Linked DNA regions of Homo sapiens. The protein of the gene in region 1 purifies or fractionates together with the protein of each later gene. This does not show direct contact. Each region holds a gene or a part of one and is shown in the gene's direction. Other genes may lie near its edges.

The links. Proteins that work in one complex are often made in the same cells at the same time.
Region 2: the proteins of ENPP6 (region 1) and SCAMP1 purify together in Homo sapiens (affinity purification with mass spectrometry; 4 studies listed by BioGRID and IntAct, with this or other methods). This does not show direct contact.
Region 3: the proteins of ENPP6 (region 1) and GLMN purify together in Homo sapiens (affinity purification with mass spectrometry; 3 studies listed by BioGRID and IntAct, with this or other methods). This does not show direct contact.

What each region holds. Positions count from the first base shown.
Region 1 is NC_000004.12:184,207,865-184,214,891, reverse strand, and holds part of ENPP6 (glycerophosphocholine cholinephosphodiesterase ENPP6 precursor), read left to right. Parts: intron 1-7,027. UniProt on the Homo sapiens protein: Choline-specific glycerophosphodiesterase that hydrolyzes glycerophosphocholine (GPC) and lysophosphatidylcholine (LPC) and contributes to supplying choline to the cells.
Region 2 is NC_000005.10:78,412,594-78,419,620, forward strand, and holds part of SCAMP1 (secretory carrier-associated membrane protein 1), read left to right. Parts: intron 1-2,926; coding exon 2,927-3,025; intron 3,026-3,947; coding exon 3,948-4,056; intron 4,057-6,181; coding exon 6,182-6,310; intron 6,311-7,027. UniProt on the Homo sapiens protein: Functions in post-Golgi recycling pathways. Acts as a recycling carrier to the cell surface.
Region 3 is NC_000001.11:92,267,984-92,275,010, reverse strand, and holds part of GLMN (glomulin), read left to right. Parts: intron 1-3,358; coding exon 3,359-3,546; intron 3,547-5,234; coding exon 5,235-5,288; intron 5,289-6,875; coding exon 6,876-6,906; intron 6,907-7,008; coding exon 7,009-7,027.

The sequences.
Region 1 (7,027 bases):
TAAGCCCTGCATGCGTTAGGTATTTGTCCTAATGCTCTCCCTCCCTGTGCCCCCGATCCTCCAACAGGGCCCAGTGTGTGATGTCCCCCTCCCTGTGTCCATGTGTTCTCATTGTTCAACTCCCACTTATGAGTGAGAACATGTGGTGTTTGATTTTCTGTCCCTGTGTTAGTTTGCTGAAAATGATGGCTTCTAGCTTCATCCATGTCTCTGCAAAGGACATGAACACATTCTTTTTTATGGCTGCATAGTATTCCATGGTGTATATGTGCCACATTTTCTTTATCCAGTCTATCATTGATGGGCATTTGGGTTGGTTCAAAGTCTTTGCTATTTGCACAGGTAATTTTAAAGTTAGGGCTGGACCCTCCTAGGAGGCCTTCGTGTAGAAAGTATGCAAATAGCGGAAACTCCCTTGAGACAGAGAATTTCACAGTGGATGGGGATGGGGAATCAACAGGCCTATTTGTGAGCAACCTTGAAACCATCTAGCCCAGTTGCTGCCATGAAGCCACCATGGCTGATTATTTATTTGCCTCAAAACATGTTTATATCAGGACAAAAGCAACCAAAATGCCAATCATGATCATGAAGATGAATCAAACAATTGAATGCCAGGAACATTGAATCTTTTTTCTTTTTTTTTTTATTATTATACTTTAAGTTTTAGGGTACATGTGCACATTGTGCAGGTTAGTTACATATGTATACATGTGCCATGCTGGTGCGCTGCACCCACTAACTCGTCATCTAGCATTAGGTATATCTCCCAATGCTATCCCTCCCGCCTCCCCCCACCCCACAACAGTCCCCAGAGTGTGATGTTCCCCTTCCTGTGTCCATGTGTTCTCATTGTTCAATTCCCACCTATGAGTGAGAATATGCGGTGTTTGGTTTTTTGTTCTTGCGATAGTTTACTGAGAATGATGATTTCCAATTTCATCCATGTCCCTACAAAGGACATGAACTCATCATTTTTTATGGCTGCATAGTATTCCATGGTGTATATGTGCCACATTTTCTTAATCCAGTCTATCATTGTTGGACATTTGGGTTGGTTCCAAGTCTTTGCTATTGTGAATAATGCCGCAATAAACATACGTGTGCATGTGTTTTTATAGCAGCATGATTTATAGTCCTTTGGATATATACCCAGTAATGGGATGGCTGGGTCAAATGGTATTTCCAGTTCTAGATCCCTGAGGAATTGCCACACTGACTTCCACAATGGTTGAACTAGTTTACAGTCCCACCAACAGTGTAAAAGTGTTCCTATTTCTCCACATCCTCTCCAGCACCTGTTGTTTCCTGAGTTTTTAATGATTGCCATTCTAACTGGTGTGAGATGGTATCTCATTGTGGTTTTGATTTGCATTTCTCTGATGGCCAGTGATGATGAGCATTTTTTCATGTGTTTTTTGGCCGCATAAATGTCTTCTTTTGAGAAGTGTCTGTTCATGTCCTTCGCCCACTTTTTGATGGGGTTGTTTGTTTTTTTCTTGTAAATTTGTTTGAGTTCATCGTAGATTCTGGATATTAGCCCTTTGTCAGATGAGTAGGTTGCGAAAATTTTCTCCCATTTTGTAGGTTGCCTGTTCACTCTGATGGTAGTTTCTTTTGCTGTGCAGAAGCTCTTCAGTTTAATTAGATCCCATTTGTCAATTTTGGCTTTGGTTGCCATTGCTTTTGGTGTTTTAGACATGAAGTCCTTGCCCATGCCTATGTCCTGAATGGCAATGCCTAGGTTTTCTTCTAGGGTTTTTATGGTTTTAGGTCTAACGTTTAAGTCTTTAATCCATCTTGAATTGATTTTTGTATAAGGTGTAAGGAAGGGATCCAGTTTCAGCTTTCTCCATATGGCTAGCCAGTTTTCCCAGCACCATTTATTAAATAGGGAATCCTTTCCCCATTGCTTGTTTTTCTCAGGTTTGTCAAAGATCAGATAGTTGTAGATATGCGGCGTTATTTCTGAGGGCTCTGTTTTGTTCCATTGATCGATATCTCTGTTTTGGTACCAGTACCATGCTGTTTTGGTTACTGTAGCCTTGTAGTATAGTTTGAAGTCAGGTAGTGTGATGCCTCCAGCTTTGTTCTTTTGGCTTAGGATTGACTTGGCGATACGGGCTCTTTTTTGATTCCATATGAACTTTAAAGTAGTTTTTTCCAATTCTGTGAAGAAAGGCATTGGTAGCTTGATGGGGATGGCATTGAATCTGTAAATTACCTTGGGCAGTATGGCCATTTTCATGATATTGATTCTTCTACCCATGAGCATGGAATGTTCTTCCATTTGTTTGTATCCTCTTTTATTTCGTTGACCAGTGGTTTGTAGTTCTCCTTGAAGAGGTCCTTCACATCCCTTGTAAGTGGGATTCCTAGGTATTTTATTCTCTTTGAAGCAATTGTGAATGGGAGTTCACTCATGATTTGGCTCTCTGTTTGTCTGTTGTTGGTGTATAAGAATGCTTGTGATTTTTGTACATTGATTTTGTATCCTGAGACTTTGCTGAAGTTGCTTATCAGCTTAAGGAGATTTTGGGCTGAGACAATGGGGTTTTCTAGATATACAATCATGTCATCTGCAAACAGGGACAATTTGACTTCCTCTTTTCCTAATTGAATACCCTTTATTTCCTTCTCCTGCCTAATTGCCCTGGCCAGAACTTCCAACACTGGGTTGAATAGGAGTGGTGAGAGAGGGCATCCCTGTCTTGTGCCAGTTTTCAAAGGGAATGCTTCCAGTTTTTGCCCATTCAGTATGATATTGGCTGTGGGTTTGTCATTGATAGCTCTTATTATTTTGAAATAAGTCCCATCAATACCTAATTTATTGAGAGTTTTTAGCATGAAGGGTTGTTGAATTTTGTCAAAGGCTTTTTCTGCATCTATTGAGATAATCATGTGGTTTTTGTCTTTGGCTCTGTTTATATGCTGGATTACATTTATTGATTTGCGTATATTGAACCAGCCTTGCATCCCAGGGATGAAGCCCACTTGATCATGGTGGATAAGCTTTTTGATGTGCTGCTGGATTCGTTTTGCCAGTATTTTATTGAGGATTTTTGCATCAATGTTCATGAAGGATATTGGTCTAAAATTCTCTTTTTTTGTTGTGTCTCTGCCTGGCTTTGGTATCAGAATGATGCTGGCCTCATAAAATGAGTTAGGGAGGATTCCCTCTTTTTCTATTGATTGGAATAGTTTCAGAAGGAATGGTACCAGTTCCTCCTTGTACCTCTGGTAGAATTCAGCTGTGAATCCGTCTGGTCCTGGACTCTTTTTAGTTGGTAAGCTATTGATTATTGCCACAATTTCAGATCCTGTTATTGGTCTATTCAGAGATTCAATTCCTTCCTGGTTTAGTCTTGGGAGAGTGTATGTGTCGAGGAATGTATCCATTTCTTCTAGATTTTCTAGTTTATTTGCGTAGAGGTGTTTGTAGTATTCTCTGATGGTAGTTTGTATTTCTGTGGGATCGGTGGTGATATCCCCCTTATCATTTTTTATTGCGTCTATTTGATTCTTCTCTCTTTTTTTCTTTATTAGTCTTGCTAGTGGTCTATCAATTTTGTTGATCCTTTCAAAAAACCAGCTCCTGGATTCATTGATTTTTTGAAGGGTTTTTTGTGTCTCTATTTTCTTCAGTTCTGCTCTGATTTTGGTTATTTCTTGCCTTCTGCTAGCTTTTGAATGTGTTTGCTCTTGCTTTTCTAGTTCTTTTAATTGTGATGTTAGGGTGTCAATTTTGGATCTTTCCTGCTTTCTCTTGTGGGCATTTAGTGCTATAAATTTCCCTCTACACACTGCTTTGAATGCATCCCAGAGATTCTGGTATGTTGTGTCTTTGTTCTCGTTGGTTTCAAAGAACATCTTTATTTCTGCCTTCATTTCGTTATGTACCCAGTAGTCATTCAGGAGCAGGTTGTTCAGTTTCCATGTAGTTGAGCAGTTTTGAGTGAGATTCTTAATCCTGAGTTCTAGTTTGATTGCACTGTGGTCTGAGAGATAGTTTATTATAATTTCTGTTCTTTTACATTTGCTGAGGACAGCTTTTCTTCCAAGTATGTGGTCAATTTTGGAATAGGTGTTGTGTGGTGCTGAAAAAAATGTATATTCTGTTGATTTGGGGTGGAGAGTTCCGTAGATGTCTATTAGGTCCGCTTGGTGCAGAGCTGAGTTCAATTCCTGGGTATCCTTGTTGACTTTCTGTCTCGTTGATCTGTCTAATGTTGACAGTGGGGTGTTAAAGTCTCCCATTATTAATGTGTGGGAGTCTAAGTCTCTTTGTAGGTCACTCAGGACTTGCTTTATGAATCTGGGTGCTCCTGTAGTGGGTGCATATATATTTAGGATAGTTAGCTCTTCTTGTTGAATTGATCCCTTTACCATTATGTAATGGCCTTCTTTGTCTCTTTTGATCTTTGTTGGTTTAAAGTCTGTTTTATCAGAGACTAGGATTGCAACCCCTGCCTTTTTTTGTTTTCCATTTGCTTGGTAGATCTTCCTCCATCCTTTTATTTTGAGCCTATGTGTGTCTCTGCACGTGAGATGGGTTTCCTGAATACAGCACACTGATGGGTCTTGACTCTTTATCCAATTTGCCAGTCTGTGTCTTTTAACTGGAGCATTTAGTCCATTTACATTTAAAGTTAATATTGTTATGTGTGAATTTGATCCTGTCATTATGATGTTAGCTGGTGATTTTGCTCGTTAGTTGATGCAGTTTCTTCCTAGTCTCGATGGTCTTTATACTTTGGCATGATTTTGCAGCGGGTGGTACCGGTTGTTCCTTTCCCTGTTTAGCGCTTCCTTCAGGAGCTCTTTTAGGACAGGCCTGGTGGTGACAAAATCTCTCAGCATTTGCTTGTCTGTAAAGTATTTTATTTCTCCTTCACTTATGAAGCTTAGTTTGGCTGGATATGAAATTCTGGGTTGAAAATTCTTTTCTTTAAGAATGTTGAATATTGGCCCCCACTCTCTTCTGGCTTGTAGGGTTTCTGCCGAGAGATCCACTGTTAGTCTGATGGGCTTCCCTTTGAGGGTAACCCGACCTTTCTCTCTGGCTGCCCTTAACATTTTTTCCTTCATTTCAACTTTGGTGAATCTGACAATTATGTGTCTTGGAGTTGCTCTTCTCGAGGGGTATCTTTGTGGCGTTCTCTGTATTTCCTGAATCTGAACGTTGGCCTGCCTTGCTAGATTGGGGAAGTTCTCCTGGATAATATCCTGCAGAGTGTTTTCCAACTTGGTTCCATTCTCCCCATCACTTTCAGGTACACAAATCAGATGTAGATTTGGTCTTTTCACATAGTCCCATATTTCTTGGAGGCTTTGCTCATTTCTTTTTATTCTTTTTTCTCTAAACTTCCCTTCTTGCTTCATTTCATTAATTTCATCTTCCATTGCTGATACCCTTTCTTCCAGTTGATTGCTTTGGCTCCTGAGGCTTCTGCATTCTTCACGTAGTTCTCGAGCCTTGGTTTTCAGCTCCATCAGCTCCTTTAAGCACTTCTCTGTATTGGTTATTCTAGTTATACATTCTTCTAAATTTTTTTCAAAGTTTTCAACTTCTTTGCCTTTGGTTTGAATGTCCTCCCGTAGCTCAGAGTAATTTGATCGTCTGAAGCCTTCTTCTCTCAGCTCGTCAAAGTCATTCTCCATCCAGCTTTGTTCCATTGCTGGTGAGGAGCTGCGTTCCTTTGGAAGAGGAGAGGCGCTCTGCTTTTTAGAGTTTCCAGTTTTTCTGTTCTGTTTTTTCCCCATCTTTGTGGTTTTATCTACTTTTGGTCTTTGATGACGGTGATGTACAGATGGGTTTTTGGTGTGGATGTCCTTTCTGTTTGTTAGTTTTCCTTCTAACAGACAGGACCCTCAGCTGCAGGTCTGTTGGAATACCCTGCCGTGTGAGGTGTCAGTGTGCTCCTGCTGGGGGGTGCCTCCCAGTTAGGCTGCTCGGGGGTCAGGGGTCAGGGACCCACTTGAGGAGGCAGTCTGCCCGTTCTCAGATCTCCAGCTGCGTGCTGGGAGAACCACTGCTCTCTTCAAAGCTGACAGGGACATTTAAGTCTGCAGAGGTTACTGCTGTCTTTTTGTTTGTCTGTGCCCTGCCCCCAGAGGTGGAGCTTACAGAGGCAGGCAGGCCTCCTTGAGCTGTGGTGGGCTCCACCCAGTTCGAGCTTCCCTGCTGCTTTGTTTACCTAAGCAAGCCTGGGCAATGGCGGGCGCCCCTCCCCCAGCCTCGCTGCCGCCTTGCAGTTTGATCTCAGACCGCTGTGCTAGCAATCAGCGAGACTCCGTGGGCGTAGGACCCTCCCAGCCAGGTGCGGGTTATAATCTCGTGGTCCGCCGTTTTTTAAGCCCGTCGGAAAAGCGCAGTATTTGGGTGGGAGTGACCCGATTTTCCAGATGCCATCCGTCACCCCTTTCTTTGACTCGGAAAGGGAACTCCCTGACCCCTTGTGCTTCCCAAGTGAGGCAATGCCTCGCCCCGCTTCGGCTCGCGCAGGGTGCGCGCACCCACTGACCTGCGCCCACTGTCTGGCACTCCCTAGTGAGATGAACCCAGTACCTCAGATGGAAATGCAGAAATCACCCATCTTCTGCATCGCTCACGCTGGGAGCTGTAGACCAGAGCTGTTCCTATTTGGCCATCTTGGCTCCTCCCACTGAATCTTAAAACAGGCCTTTCACCAGGGAGATTACATTCAAGCAGGGGAGGCAGAACACTCGCGAATGGGTGCCCACTAATATTCTAAAGTGTGTAGCAAGGTGTTGTGAGCCCAAATGTGTCCTCATCCTCCTGTCCCCCAGTTCAAGTTGGGTTTCCAGTACCTCAGAATGTAACCACATTTGGAGATAAGGTCTTTAAAGGTGACCAAGTTAAAACAAGGCCATTAGAGCGGGCTATTCCAATATGACAGTATAGGAAGGCGAAGAGACACAGGCATGCGCACGTGCAGAGAAAAGGCCATCTGAGGACACAGCAAGGCGGCCCTCGCAGGCGGTGGAGAGGGGCCCAGGAGACACC
Region 2 (7,027 bases), on another chromosome or scaffold:
TGTCAGAGTTTGTTTTTCTATCTCATGGTTTTGAAATGATATATGATTGTTTTTGCACTTCTTGATTACTAGTGCTGTTACACCTCTTTTCACATGTTTATTGACCTCTTTCTATTGCTTGTTCAGATCTTTTGCTAGTTTTTCGATTAGTTTGTATTTTCATGGATTTGTAACAATTCTTTATATATTCTGGGTAGCAATTTTCTGTTATATGCATTACAACTATCTTTTCCTAGTCCATGATTTGACTTTTTACTTTTTGTAAATTTCAGTGTAATTAAATTCGTCAATTTTGTGTGGTGTGTGTTTTCCATTCTTAATTTGACAGATACTTACTGAGCATCTACTGTTTCAGGGACTATTTTGGGTACTTGGGATAGGTCATAAACAAAATACACAGTATTTCTAGAGTTCATATTCTAGAAGCTCAAGAAATATTCATAAAAATATTCACATGTATTTTTCCCTGAAAGTGTTTAAGTTTTGCTTTTTCAGTTTTAGATCATGAATTTACCTCGAATTAATCTTTGTATATGATGCGAAGTAAGAAATGTTTTTTTTTCCTATATGAGTAACCAGTTATCCAGGCACCGTTTATTGATTAACACATTGTTTCTTCACTGTTTTGTAGTGACACCTCTGTTAGATATCAAGTTTCTGCATTTGTGTGGGTTTGTTTCTGTGTCTGTTTTGTTTATTGGTACACTTCTCTGTCCTTGCATCTGTATTACACTCTTAATTACTGTGGTTCTATAATAAGCCTTGATATCATAGGTCTTCCTACTTTGTTTTTCTTCAAAATGGTTTGACCTGTTTTTAGTTCCTGCCTTTTTTTTTTTTTTGAGATAGACTCTCACTCTGTAGCCCAAGTTGGAGTGCAGTGGCATAATCTGGGCTCACTGCAACCTCTGCCTCCCAGGCTCAAGCGATTCTCATGCCTCAGCCTCTCCAGTAGCTGGGACTACAGGTGCACACCACCATGCCTGTCTAATTTTTTGTATTTTAGTAGAGACGAGGTTTCACCATGTTGCCCAGGGTGGTCTCGAACTCCTGAGCTCAGGCGATCTGCCCACCTTGGCCTCCCAAAGTGCTGGGATTACAAGTGTGAGCCTCTGCACCCAGCCGGTTCTTGCCTTTTGTATATGCATTTTAGAATCAGCTGAACTACAGTTATATCTTTGGTTATGCGTGGCTTCCTTTTCAGGGCTGCTGTTAGCTGTGTCAGAGTAAAATCCTGCTATATATTGGTGGTGTCTTCTGGTTTTAATAGTTCTTAAGATCCTTGAACGTCCTTGTGCAGCTTCTTTCTTTTTTATATTTTTCTTATTTATGACCTCCCCCTTCCCTCCCTCTTCTCTTTCTTTCCTTTCTTCTTTTCTTTTCTGTTACTGTTTTTGCTTCTATTGTTCTTTTCATGTTCCCATCCTTGTTTTTTGTTTTTTTCTTATGGTCATTCTAAAGAGTACTTTAAAAATATATTTTTATTAAAGTAGTATATGGTGCATGTGTCGAGGGAAGCAAATAATACAGAGGCATATAAAACAACAGGTGCAAGTCCGTCTGATATCAGGTGGCCGAGACTTCCCAGATATTTTATGGGGGCATGTATAAATCTGTGTCTGTTGAAAAAAAGGTCATATACAGACTGTTCTGTAGCTTGCTTTATTTTTTAATTTAATTTTTATTTTATTATTATTATTATTTTTTGAGATGGAGTCTTGCTCTGTCTCCCAGGCTGGAGTGCAGTGGTGCGATCTTAGCTCACTGCAACCTCCGCCTCCCGGGTTCAAGCGATTCTTCTGCCTCAGCCTCCCAAGTAGCTGGGACTGCAGGCGCCCGCCGCCACACCTGGCTAATTTTTGTATTTTTAGGAGAGATGGGGTTTCACCATATTGGCCAGGCTGGTCTCGAACTCCTGACTTTGTGATCCACTTGCCTCGGCCTCCCAAAGTACTGGGATCACAAGCATAGGACACTGCGCCCGGCCAGCTTGCTTTATTTTATTTAGTATTTTAAAAGACATTCTTCTATCGCTAATTTATTCTCATGGCTGCATTGTATGTATATACAGTAATTTAACCAATCCCCCATTGATGGACTTGTAGATGTCTACTTCCTGATCTTGCAGCTTTCAGACACTACTGATCCTCACTGGCAAAGTGGAAGTTGGGTAATTTATTTTCTCTCTCCTTACGCCTTCCCTTTTACTCTTTTAAATTTAGTGGGGTTCTACCAAGAACTTTCCTGTATACTCTTCAGAGCACTGGCATGTAGCTTTCTCAAGAGGGAAGAGTTGGCAGTAAACCTTGGTGTAGTTCTTTTGTCTGGTTCTATCTGTATTTTACTATTAAACTCAAAAGTTCTTTTTTTTTTTTTTTGAGATGGAGTCTTGCTCTGTTGCCCAGGCTGGAGTGCAGTGGTACAGTCTTGGCTCACTGCAGCCTCCACCTCCCCGGTTCAAGTGATTCTCCTGCCTCAGCCTCCCAAGTAGCTGGGATTACAGGTGCCCGCCACCACACCCGGCTAATTTTTGTATTTTTAGTAGAGACGGGGTTTCACCATATTGGCCAGGCTGGTCTTGAACTCCTGACTTAGGTGATCTACACGCCTTGGCCTCCCAAAGTGCTGGGATTACAGGCATGAGCCACCATGCCTGGCCTCTATTAACATACGGTATCCTGGAGGAGAGTGTTTGTCATATAGTGTTATAAGTAGCAGTCTGATTGTAGAGTTGAAAAATGAATGAGTTGGAGAAAATGGAGATGGAGAATTTAAGCAGCTCTTTGCCACACACTTGACTATGAGAGAGCAGGGAATGAAGAGATGCAGATTTTGGGATTTTTCATTTTATTGGTGTTATACTTTTTGAAAGAAGTTAAAGTTGGATCTCTGTGTTACATAATTTTCCTTCTCTTAATCCTCCTAGCCTCCACCAGGCGGTGTGAAGATGCCTAATGTACCCAATACACAACCAGCAATAATGAAACCAACAGAGGAACATCCAGCTTATACACAGATTGCAAAGGTTAGTTCATGTTAGTTGTATAAATTCATATTGGCCATTATAATATCAATAACATTTGCTTTCAGAGCAAAATAAATCTTTATATGGTTACATTTCTGTTGCTTAATTTTTAACTCACTTTCAAGTCTGGATTTGCTGTCTTGTCACCCTTCAAATACTCATTCCTCTTTTTGTCAGCTTATACCATTTGCTTTATTCCATTATTAGGAATTATTGAATTTATGTATCATCTCAGTGGATAAATTTTTATTGCCTTTGGTCCCACTTTTTAATGCACACTACCATTAAGGTAAAAATGATGGAATAATAGATATTATTGGGAGAGCGTTGCAATGGTAAAATAACAGTGTTAGGAGGTAGAAGATGGCAAAAATCTGAGAAGAAAGGAGATTAATAAGATGCCTGATAGCATGTAAGGGCAAATTGAGTTATAAAGAATTTCTTAATCACATCTTTTGACCTCATTCTCCTATAACATTTAAGATATTAGAAAATATTCTTGCATTGGTGGCCTTATATATCATTTAATCTGATTAATAGGAGCCAATTCAGTTGCCCTTTTTTCTATTGTTCATTTTCCTCAACTGTTCCCATTGCCTCTGTTCTTCACTCATTTAGGCATAGAGGTCATCTTAATTTCATTTTCCAGATTACCTAAAGATTGTGACTACTTTTACTAAGAGAAGTTTTCCTCTCCTAATGGACCCAACATTCCCACTGAGAGTTTCTGGAACCCAAAGACCAAATGGACCAAATATCCTCATAATATTTTCTGTAACTATGATCTTCAGTAAATTCCTGTACTTTGGAAGTGTGTTTGAATTAGGTTTCTCTCATAGTAGAGAAGTAGGAGTTAGCATATAAATGTTAAAGTATTTTATACTTCTGACAGTCTATTCACATATTGATATTTTTTATTTAGGAACATGCATTGGCCCAAGCTGAACTTCTTAAGCGCCAGGAAGAACTAGAAAGAAAAGCCGCAGAATTAGATCGTCGGGAACGAGAAATGCAAAACCTCAGTCAACATGGTAGTATCCAAAGAAATTTGAAATAAAAATAACTTTTAAATACTTTACATTATGTCTATACTAGCTCCTAGGTCATTTGGCCTGTGGATAAAACCCTACCCTGTTTTCCTGTTCTAACAAGGAGATCAGACACAGCAGATTGCCTGTTTGATACTCTGTAGCCTTCTAATCTTGGCTGATTTGCATAGTCTTTTGTTGATAGCTTAGAACAGTGTTAGCCTCATCACACAGAAAATGAATGTGAATATGATAATTTTTGCTTACTCTGAGGCCAGGAGCCTTTGATTCTGCAGTTAGGCCCTCCTTGGTTCTGTGGACTCTTTATGAGTACATTTGCATGTACCCTACATTTGACTTTTACCTGATTTATTCAGGTTAATTTCAGATTATCTGCCCCAGTCCTCGCAAGTATTTTGTCAAATCATGTTAGAAAAATTGGAAGCCTAAGGTATTCATATGATGCCAAAGAAATAAGTGGTGAATTGTTGCAGTGAATTCTATTAAGTTTGTGCCTGCCAAAGCACTTCAAAGGAGTCTCTTAGGGAAAGCTAGCAGTCTCTGAGTAAGAAGAGATAAAAGAGCTAGATAAGTCATTGTTAGGATGTCTGGGATAGTGATGCAATGCAAAGCTAGAACAATAACAATATACAGAACTATTTCTTTTTAACTTAGAATGTGTAAGTCTAGGGCCTCATGAGAACACATTTATCCTGGGTCATTTTCTTGCTTGCAGCATCAGAGGTAGCATCTATAGAAGGAGAAACTAAAAGTTGAACTGGGACCAATGTTTCTGAAGTACCTGTAACTAAAATCCATCCTATTTCTTTAGCACTGGCAAATACAAACTATTTCTATGAGAGTTATGTTAGTAAAGACAGTAACAAAGAGTAGGAAATTAACAATTAGACTGCAGTATGTTAGCACATTTTAGTACTTTTCCCCTCTTAACTCATACTTAAATCATCAATACAATCCTGTGAGGGGTGATAGAGTTTTTATTCTCATTTTACAGATATGGAAACTAAGGCTCGGAGGAGAGAGTAAGTTGCCCAAGGCGACCTTGCCAGTAAGTGGCTAGCCACTTCTGGTTCCAGAGCCTCTCTTCTTTACGAGTATTCACTGCCGCTTCTCAAATAGTATGAGATTGGTATGAGAAATGAACTATATGAAATTTGAATAGTATGATAAATGGAACACAGGAGACTCATTGGGGAGAATCAGAAATAGGTTATTGTTCTTTCTATAAAAATTACCCTGGTCTGGGAAAAGTAGGTAAAATTGAATTTTTAAAAACTGTGGGATATAACATCTAAAATCGGGAAATGGCCTTAGGTGCTGTTTTTACCCGCTATTTTCATGTTTTGACTTCTTTATTTTAATTTTTTATTTCCCCCACCATTTCTCAAGTCTTATTTTTAATCTGGTTTCTTTATGTAGACACATTTTTTTCCCTTTACAGTTTGAATTTGTTTTTCTCTGCATTTTTAAAGGTTCTATAATTCTTCAGCTTCCTTATCATGACTGTTTCATGTTTTCTTTGTTGTAGGGTTTTCGTACATGTATCTTTTGGATATTATTTTTTCCCAGATTTTGAGTATTCTAAATTTGATTCTTTGGTATTGGTTTAATCTTGGACTTAACAGAAAACTTGAAAAAATTAGAAGCTAGTCTTTCTCCACTTGAGATAGGAATTATAACAGAATTATATTTGAAGATTTAAGATGCTGAGGAGAAAATTGAAGTTTAAAAACTGGATGGCCCTTTCATGCCAGCCAGACTCTTTGGACTGTGAAATAAATCTGTTTTAGGGTAGAAGCACTGGATATGTGCTTTCTTTTTGTTTCTTGTTTTTTCTGTACATAAATGGTTCCTGCTAAACATGGTATGATATGACACTGGAAAATTATTTTACTATCTAATGTGCTCTAAGGTGATGATATTCTGAGAAAATTTTTTAAAAATCTAAAGCTTGTCTTTCAGAGTTCTAGGAATACAAAGATATAGTTCTACAGTTTTTCTGAACTTTTGTTAACATAATAGAGTTTTTCTTTATTATGAAACAAAAAATAATATCACATTTGTTATAATATAAATAACCTTTTCTTTTTCTAAAAAAAATTTACAGGTAGAAAAAATAATTGGCCACCTCTTCCTAGCAATTTTCCTGTCGGACCTTGTTTCTATCAGGATTTTTCTGTAGACATTCCTGTAGAATTCCAAAAGACAGTAAAGCTTATGTACTACTTGTGGATGTGTGAGTATACAACAATTTACATCTTTGCTTAGAATTTGTATTTTTGTTGTCAAAATCCGCATTTTTATTTCAAGGATAGTATAGCAAACCAGTCTTCTTTTTCTATAGATAAAGCTTAATAATCATGATTTCAGAGTGAAACATATCCTATTTAGGTACTTCAGAATTGTACTATATGTGACAATGTAAGTCCTTGGCTGAGAAAAACTTGTATGTTGAGAACTGGCATTCTTTTGAGGAAAAGACAACTTCTCTGTCATGTGGGTAAAATTTTATAAGATTCTTTTTCCTTGAAAGATGTTATCTAGACATGATTTGCTTGGAAAAAATAGTGCATACTAATTTTATGCAGAGGAAGGCCATTTAAAAGAATTCTGTTAAATGTAGGCGTTTTAGCTATTTTTAAAAGGGCATAAAATTATTACATAAACTAAGTGTTCTTTTTATAGCTTTGAGTACAGTTTACTTTTTGTTTTCAATTGCGATACTTTTATTATTGAAAGTGCTTAATTAATACAGGACATTTTGTTGAACGGAACATTAGAATATACGTTTGGGGCTCTGATGCTTACATCACTTTGAGTATAATAACTCATGGAATACTGAAACAAAATGTCAAGCCGTTAACAGTTTTACTCTGTGTGCACAGACCTCCCACTTACTCTCTGTTTCATTTTTATTCCAAACAGTAGTCTCAGCCTCATTTTGATACCCTGT
Region 3 (7,027 bases), on another chromosome or scaffold:
CAGTTATTTTTCCAAGGCTGGCATTTTACTGGGTAGATACTGCTGAAGGAAATACAGGGTGCAGATAGTTCAGCTGGTCAATAATCCATGATTCAGGTTGGATAGGGAAAGAAGGGGGGTTAGGAGGGAATGCCTAGGTAGGTCAAAATGTAGGAATCACAGGACTGGAGAAGTCAGAAGTAGAAAAGCAGATTGCTAGGAGAGACAGGATGACAGATTTTGGTCAGAAAATGGGATATTGGAGTTTAAAGTATCAAATACAGAATAGTTCCAGATGTTCAGAGATCCAGCATGGGATTAGGTACTGAAATGGATTAGAACTAAAAGTCACTAGAATTTAGAAATTGAGAACCATGAGAGTGGATGCAATGACTTGTTGCTTGATTGAAAAATAAATTAATAATAATAAAGGACCATGAGACTAGCCTGTTATAGGGGTTATCTCCATGAACATTGAATTTTCCCAGGATCATAGCAGGAATTGGGTAGAGAAAAAGATTATGAGAAGGTGCCAGAGTCTTCAGTGAATGTCAGGAAATTACCAGGAAGTCAGCATATGACAGAGAAAAGGACAGTATGTTATCTGCATCAAAGGAAAATGTGCTTTTGTTGAAAAGTACAGAAAAAGCCAATACTACAATACTGTGCTAAGCCCCTACCTGTACTCCTCTACCCAACAGCTGCATTCCAGGCCCTGTGGTATAAAAGGTGTGAGAATGAGCATCTCCCACCAGAAATCAGACAGGTTTAGTTAAAGCAGTGAGGCAGAACAAGCATCCTATGAAGAGACTGAGGATGTAGGTGAGTGGTTCTAAAATCTCAGTAGAAGGAACATTGCAAGTAGAAAGAGCCAGCAGTAAGGATGCACGTAGCAGTCTAGAAGTAGAGGTGAGACCAGCTTGGAGATGAAATGAGGAGATGTCTTCTGTTCTGTGCTGGAGAAGTACTGGTAAGTGTGGTGTGGTTGGGATTCACAGGCCTCAGCCATCCTCACTTTGGTACAAGTTATTTTGGTACAGAACTACTAGAATGTCCCAAAGGCTGTAGTACAGGAACATTTCTGAAAGGACAAAAGCTGCCATGAATATTGAGAAATTGTATGGTGCCAGGTACAGCCTGGATCTGAGCAAGACTGCTGGATGGTGTGTGGATAGATAGTGAAGGCCCAGATTTGGGAACAGATTGGATCTCAGATATCCAGAGCAGCACTGTAGAATCTAGTTGCATATAATAATGTTTTAAAAAGGGTATCTTAGGCTGGGCACGGTAGCTCCCGCTTGTAGGCCCAGGCCTTTGGGAGGCCAAGGTGGGCAGATCACTTAAGCCCAGGAGTTCAAGACCAGCCTGGGCTGCATGGCGAAACCCCATCTCTATAAAAAATAAAAAAAATAAAAAAAAAATAGCGGGCATGGTGGCATGTACCAGTAGTCCTAGCTACTCAGGAGACTGAGGAGGGTGGATTGCTTGAGCCTGGGGAAGTCAAGGCTGCAGTAAGCCATGATCATGCCACTACACTCCAGCCTGAGTGACAGAGTGAGACCTTGTCGCCAAAAAAAAAAAAAAAAAAAACAGGGCTACCTTACTCTGGAAAAAACACATGTAGCATTGGCTGAATAAAGAAATGGAGCTTCATGATTAAGGACATTTGGAATCAGAGTGCAATAAACTTTTTGTCTTGTAGCTATAACCAGAATGCATGGCTTTGAAAATCACTGCAGCAGTATATATTTAGCATCTGGTCGCTGAATAGCAGTCTCTTGTGACTGAGGATGATTTTCCATGGTTCCTTTTTGTATTCTGAAATGACTAATGGAACCATCTGGGATCAGCAGATTTTAAGTCCCTGAAGGCTGGAAAAGACTTATACTTGGCTTTATAATTCCCCACAAAGTCAGGCCCAGCACCTTGCACTTAAGTGTTTATTGAATAAAAGAGTGACTTGTGTGGAAGTTATTCATTCTGCTTTAGCTGTTTTTGTCATTCATTCCCTTTTAACTCTTGTAGTTTGTTGTGACTTTAACTTTCTTACGCTTTTTTTGTGGAGCTGCTCGATAAATATTTGACATAGGTATTATGTCATTTTATGGCTCATCCAGTGTCACACAAGTAGTAAATGGTAGAGCCAAAACTCAAAATCAATGTCAGTGGATTCTGAAGGTAGGTGCTTTCTGGTACGCTAGAATTAGTACCAGTATAAGAGGCATAGGAGTGATCTTGTTTCCTGAGCGGAAAGCTTTATTTAGCCCTGTGGTCCTACCCACTCATGCAAGGATGCTTCTCTTTCTCGTCTCACATGAGAACCCTGATGACTGAGAGATCAACAGTGTTTCCTCAGGCCCAGCTGCCCTGCCCAGCGTTCCTGCATCCCACTCTCTACAGGCACAATGTTAGTGGAGCATTGTTCCTAGAGTATTCTTCATCTTAGTTGCTTTACCCTTGCTTCATATATTTGTATGTCTCACGTTTCAGATTGCTCTCAAATATCCCTGAAGCACTTTTTTAAAAAAAATTGTGGTGAAATATACATAAAATTCATCATTTTAAACTTTTTAAACTATGATTCTGAATTAATTTAGAATACTTCTGATGTATAAAATGCTATGTAAAATACGATTTTGCTGTTGGCTTCTGTATTAGTTTTTCATTGCTGTATAACAAATTCCTGCAAACTTAGCAGTTTAAAACAGCATACCTTTGTTATCTCACAGTTTCTATGGATCAGGAGTCCAGCCACAGCTTAATTGGGTCCTCTGCTCAGGGTCTCATTGGGCTACAGGCCAGTTGTTGACTGGGTCTGTAGTCTTATCAGAAGCTTAACTGGGGAAAGATCCACTTTCAGGTTTCCTCCGCTGGCAGAATTCATTTCCTCTAAGCTGTAGGACTGAGGTCCCCATTTTCTTGCTGGCTGTCAGCCAGGGACCACATTTAGCTTCTAGGAGCTGCCTGTAGTTGGTCCCTTGCCATGTAGTTCTGTCCATGAGCCTTCTCATAACATGGCAGCTTAGTTCTTTAAAGCCAGCAAGGGAGAGAGTCAGAGAGCAAAGTTTCTGACTCTCAGGGAAGGCCTGGACCCCCTTTAAAAATATACCTGATTAAGTTAGGGCCACCCAACTCAAAATCTACTGATTTGGGACCTTAATTACATCTGCAAAAACCCCTTCACTTTTGTCATATAATCTAATCATGGGAGTGACATCTTGGCGCATTCTGTTGGTTGAAAGCAAGTCTCATAGGTCCCACTCACGCTCAAAGGGAGTGATTACACCTCCCCTTGGTGAGAATGTGGAGTTTGAATACACGGGGTGGGGGGCATTTTAGAGTCTGTGTGCTATGGTTTCCTTTTTTATCCATTTCATAGGGTTTTTTATCAGCAATTGGACACCCTTTCCCCAAAATGATTTTTAATCATGGAAGGAAAAAGAGAACTTGGAATTACCTTGAATTTGAAGAAGAAGAAAATAAACAGTTAGCAGACTCAATGGCTTCTCTGGCATATCTAGTATTTGTACAGGGCATCCATATTGATCAGCTTCCAATGGTCTTAAGGTAAGAGTTAGTGTTTGGTTTATTCATGTATTCTAAAAGGAATTTCATAAAATTCTCATTTATCTAATGTCCAATATATGCATATTAACACACTAATACATTTTAAATAAATAGTAAAGGCTATTTTTAATAAGAATGATCCCAGCTATAATCTGTTAAAGATAGCAGTAGACAAGTAATGAAAGTGGGGAGTGTTGAAATAGGTGTAAGGGAATGGTGGGGACAAGAATCAGAAGATGATAAACAGGGCTTGGTTTTGAAGCTTTTGAGACCACCCTGGAACTAGCCAGGTACCCAGGGGTATCATCATCTTTTCACTGGATTACTGCTGTAATCCTGAGTGGATTTATATATCTACTTTTACTTCCTTTTAATTTAACACATTCTCAACATACCAGAAAGCGAAGCCTTAAAAGAAGTCCCTTACTGAAAACCCTCCAGTGGCTTTTTATTGCTTTAAGAATAAAGTCTTAATGCCTTTGCATAACTTCTGAGACAAACTTGTGCCTGGTCTGGTCCCTGCTTAATTGACCTGATTCATCTCCTACCACCTTTCCTCTTGTTTACTATGCTCCAGTGACACAGACCTTCTTTTGTTTCTAGTTTAAATGTTATGAATTTTCCTATTTGGCCTTTGTATATGCTTAAAATTCTCTTTATCCTTAAATGTCACTTTCTGAAGAAAGCCTTCACTCACCACCCAATTTAGGTTGAATCCTTCTATTATAATTACCTTGACCTTGTCTTCTTTTCCCACAATGTTTATTAAAATTATTTTTAAAATATATAATTTTATAATGTAATATCTTCTGGACTTTGAGTTCTATGATAATAAGGATTGTGTATTTGTCTTATAGGCATTGGGTATTTGTGTGAGTTTGTGCATTTATATATGAATATAGCTAGGAGTACATTCGTATGTAAATGTTGAAATACTGGCTATCATTTGCATGTTCACCATGTATGAAACATTATGCTAATAACTTTATATGCATTATCTCATCCTTATAATAAGCCTGTGAAATAGAGCATTCTCTCATTTTACAGATGAAAATAACAGGCTTAGACAAGTTAATATACCACTGAAGATCTAACTACTTTGTGGCATAGGTGGGATGCAGATAGCTCTGTCTGACCCCAGAGCCTATACTCTTAAGCATCACATTCTATCACCAAAATAACTTATACAGCATATGTATATTAACTTGCTAGGGCTCCTGTAAAAAAGTGCTACCAACTGGATGGTTGAAATAACAGAAATAGTTTGTCTCATAGTTCTGGATGCTCCTTCTGAGGGTTGTGAAGGAGAATCTTCTCCATGCCTCTCTCCTGGCTTCTGGTGATTTGCTCACAATCTTTGATGGTCTTTGGCTTGTAGATGCATTATCCTGTTCTCTGCCTTCATGTTCGTATGCTGTTCTCCCTGTGTGCTTGTGTCTGTCTCCAAACTTTCCTTTTACATAAGGACAACAGTCATATTGGATTAGGGCCCACCCTAATAATCTCATTTTAAATTGATTACCTCCATAACCCTATCTCCAAATAAGGTCAAATTCTGAGGTACTAGAGGTTAGGACTCCAACATATCTTTTTTGGGGGAGATACAATTCAACCCATAACAATATGTATGTGTGTACATATCTCTGTGTGTGTGTATAATATATATATTTGTTTTGTTTCTATTTTAGCCCATTGTACCTTTTGCAGTTTAATATGGGGCACATTGAAGTCTTTTTGCAAAGGTAAGATCGTTTAGATGGTATCTCAAAATGAAATAGTAGTGTTAAAATAGTCCTTGTTAAGATCAGCGGAGACTGCCTTTTCTTTGCTAAGCTCTAATTAATTAATTGGTTATTTTATAAAACAGCGAGGCAAATAATTCACGAGAGAGACAGAAATGAGTCAAGGAGGTTTTACACCAAAGTCTGTTTTATTTTAAACTTAAGACAGTATTAAGATTTTGTCTTAAGGGCTTTTACAGTCATCTGTTTCTAAGGTTTCTTCTCTTACTCCAAAAGTTGGTAAATTAAAACACCTCTACCCCACTGCATCCTCCTCCATCTTAAGGAAGGGCAGTCAATAAAAGAAGTTCTTCCGTATTTTTCCTTCATGGACACAGTCTGTGAATTGCATCAAAAGGAAGGAGGTGTCTTGACTTCCACCTTTTATAATTTAGATTATTGACAGTGATGTCATTCAATTACAACTTTTCTCATTTGAGGTGCTAAGCAGCAGGACTTTCTATTTAAAAAAAAAAAAAAAAAGCCAGGCACGGTGGCTCACGCCTATAATCCCAGCACTTTGGGAGACCAAGGCGAGAGGATTGCTTGACCCCAGGAGTTCGAAACCAGTCTCTCTCTCTACAAAAAATAGAAAAAATTAGCCAGGAGTGGTGGCGCCTGCCCGTTGTCCCAGCTACTTGGGAGGTTGAGGTGAAAGAATCACCTGTGCCTGGGAGGTCTGGGCTGCAGTGAGCAGAGATCATGCCACTGCAGTCCAGCCTGGGCAACAGAGTAAGACCCTGTCGCAAAAGAAAAAAAAAAAAAAAAGGAAATTACAGAGTAACAGGTATACATAATTTCTAGACAGAAATTAAAGAATTTCACAGAACTATATGCTTTGTTTTCTTTCACTATAACATGTAACATGTTTAAATTATCCCCTGAGATCAGTTAGGGCTTTGCAATTATCCTCTATGAACACTAGTGACAGTTTATCAGTCCCATCTCTTACCAGGTGAAGGAAGATTTGTAACATGGCAATGTCCAAAGCTTCAGCATACAAGGCAGGAATTTCCAAGGGTCTCCTGGCACAAGTAGTTACTAATTCTGTAAATTTGCTGTATTATGTATGTTTTAATGATTTTATATTCATTACATTTAGTTTCTGTTATTCATACAGTGATAATATGTATTGTTTTGAATCTAAGTCCTAAATTCTTGAGATTTCCAAACTGCAGAGTCATTGAGTCTTTTTTTGAATAAAAAGAATTGGAAAGATTTTACAGAATAATCAACTGGAATATATAGCATTGGTTATATCAGGTTTAGTTAGTTTCTTAGCACTTGCTGTTGAAGATCTATTGTTTTGAAGTTAGGAAATAATCCCTGAGTAGATTTATTTTGGTCAGATTTAGTGGCCTTAGCCAAACCGAAAGACAGATCAAAGATGGATTAAAACTTTTGATCAAGTTCTTCAACAGAATTTCTCCTTAATGATATGCATTTTAAAAGTGTTAAAATTTCAGTTTTTGCTGTATTTTTCATAAGATGAAGTATCATTCTAAAATAGTTTACAAATTCATGATAAATTTTAATATTATTTTTCAGAACAGAAGAGTCTGTTATCTCCAAAGGATTGGTAAGATGTTTGTTCCCATTATAACTTAAATACATAGTTATGTCAACAAATAACAGCTGTTGACTTCACTATATATGTATCTGCATATATTTTAATCTGTAGGAGCTGCTGGAGAATAGTT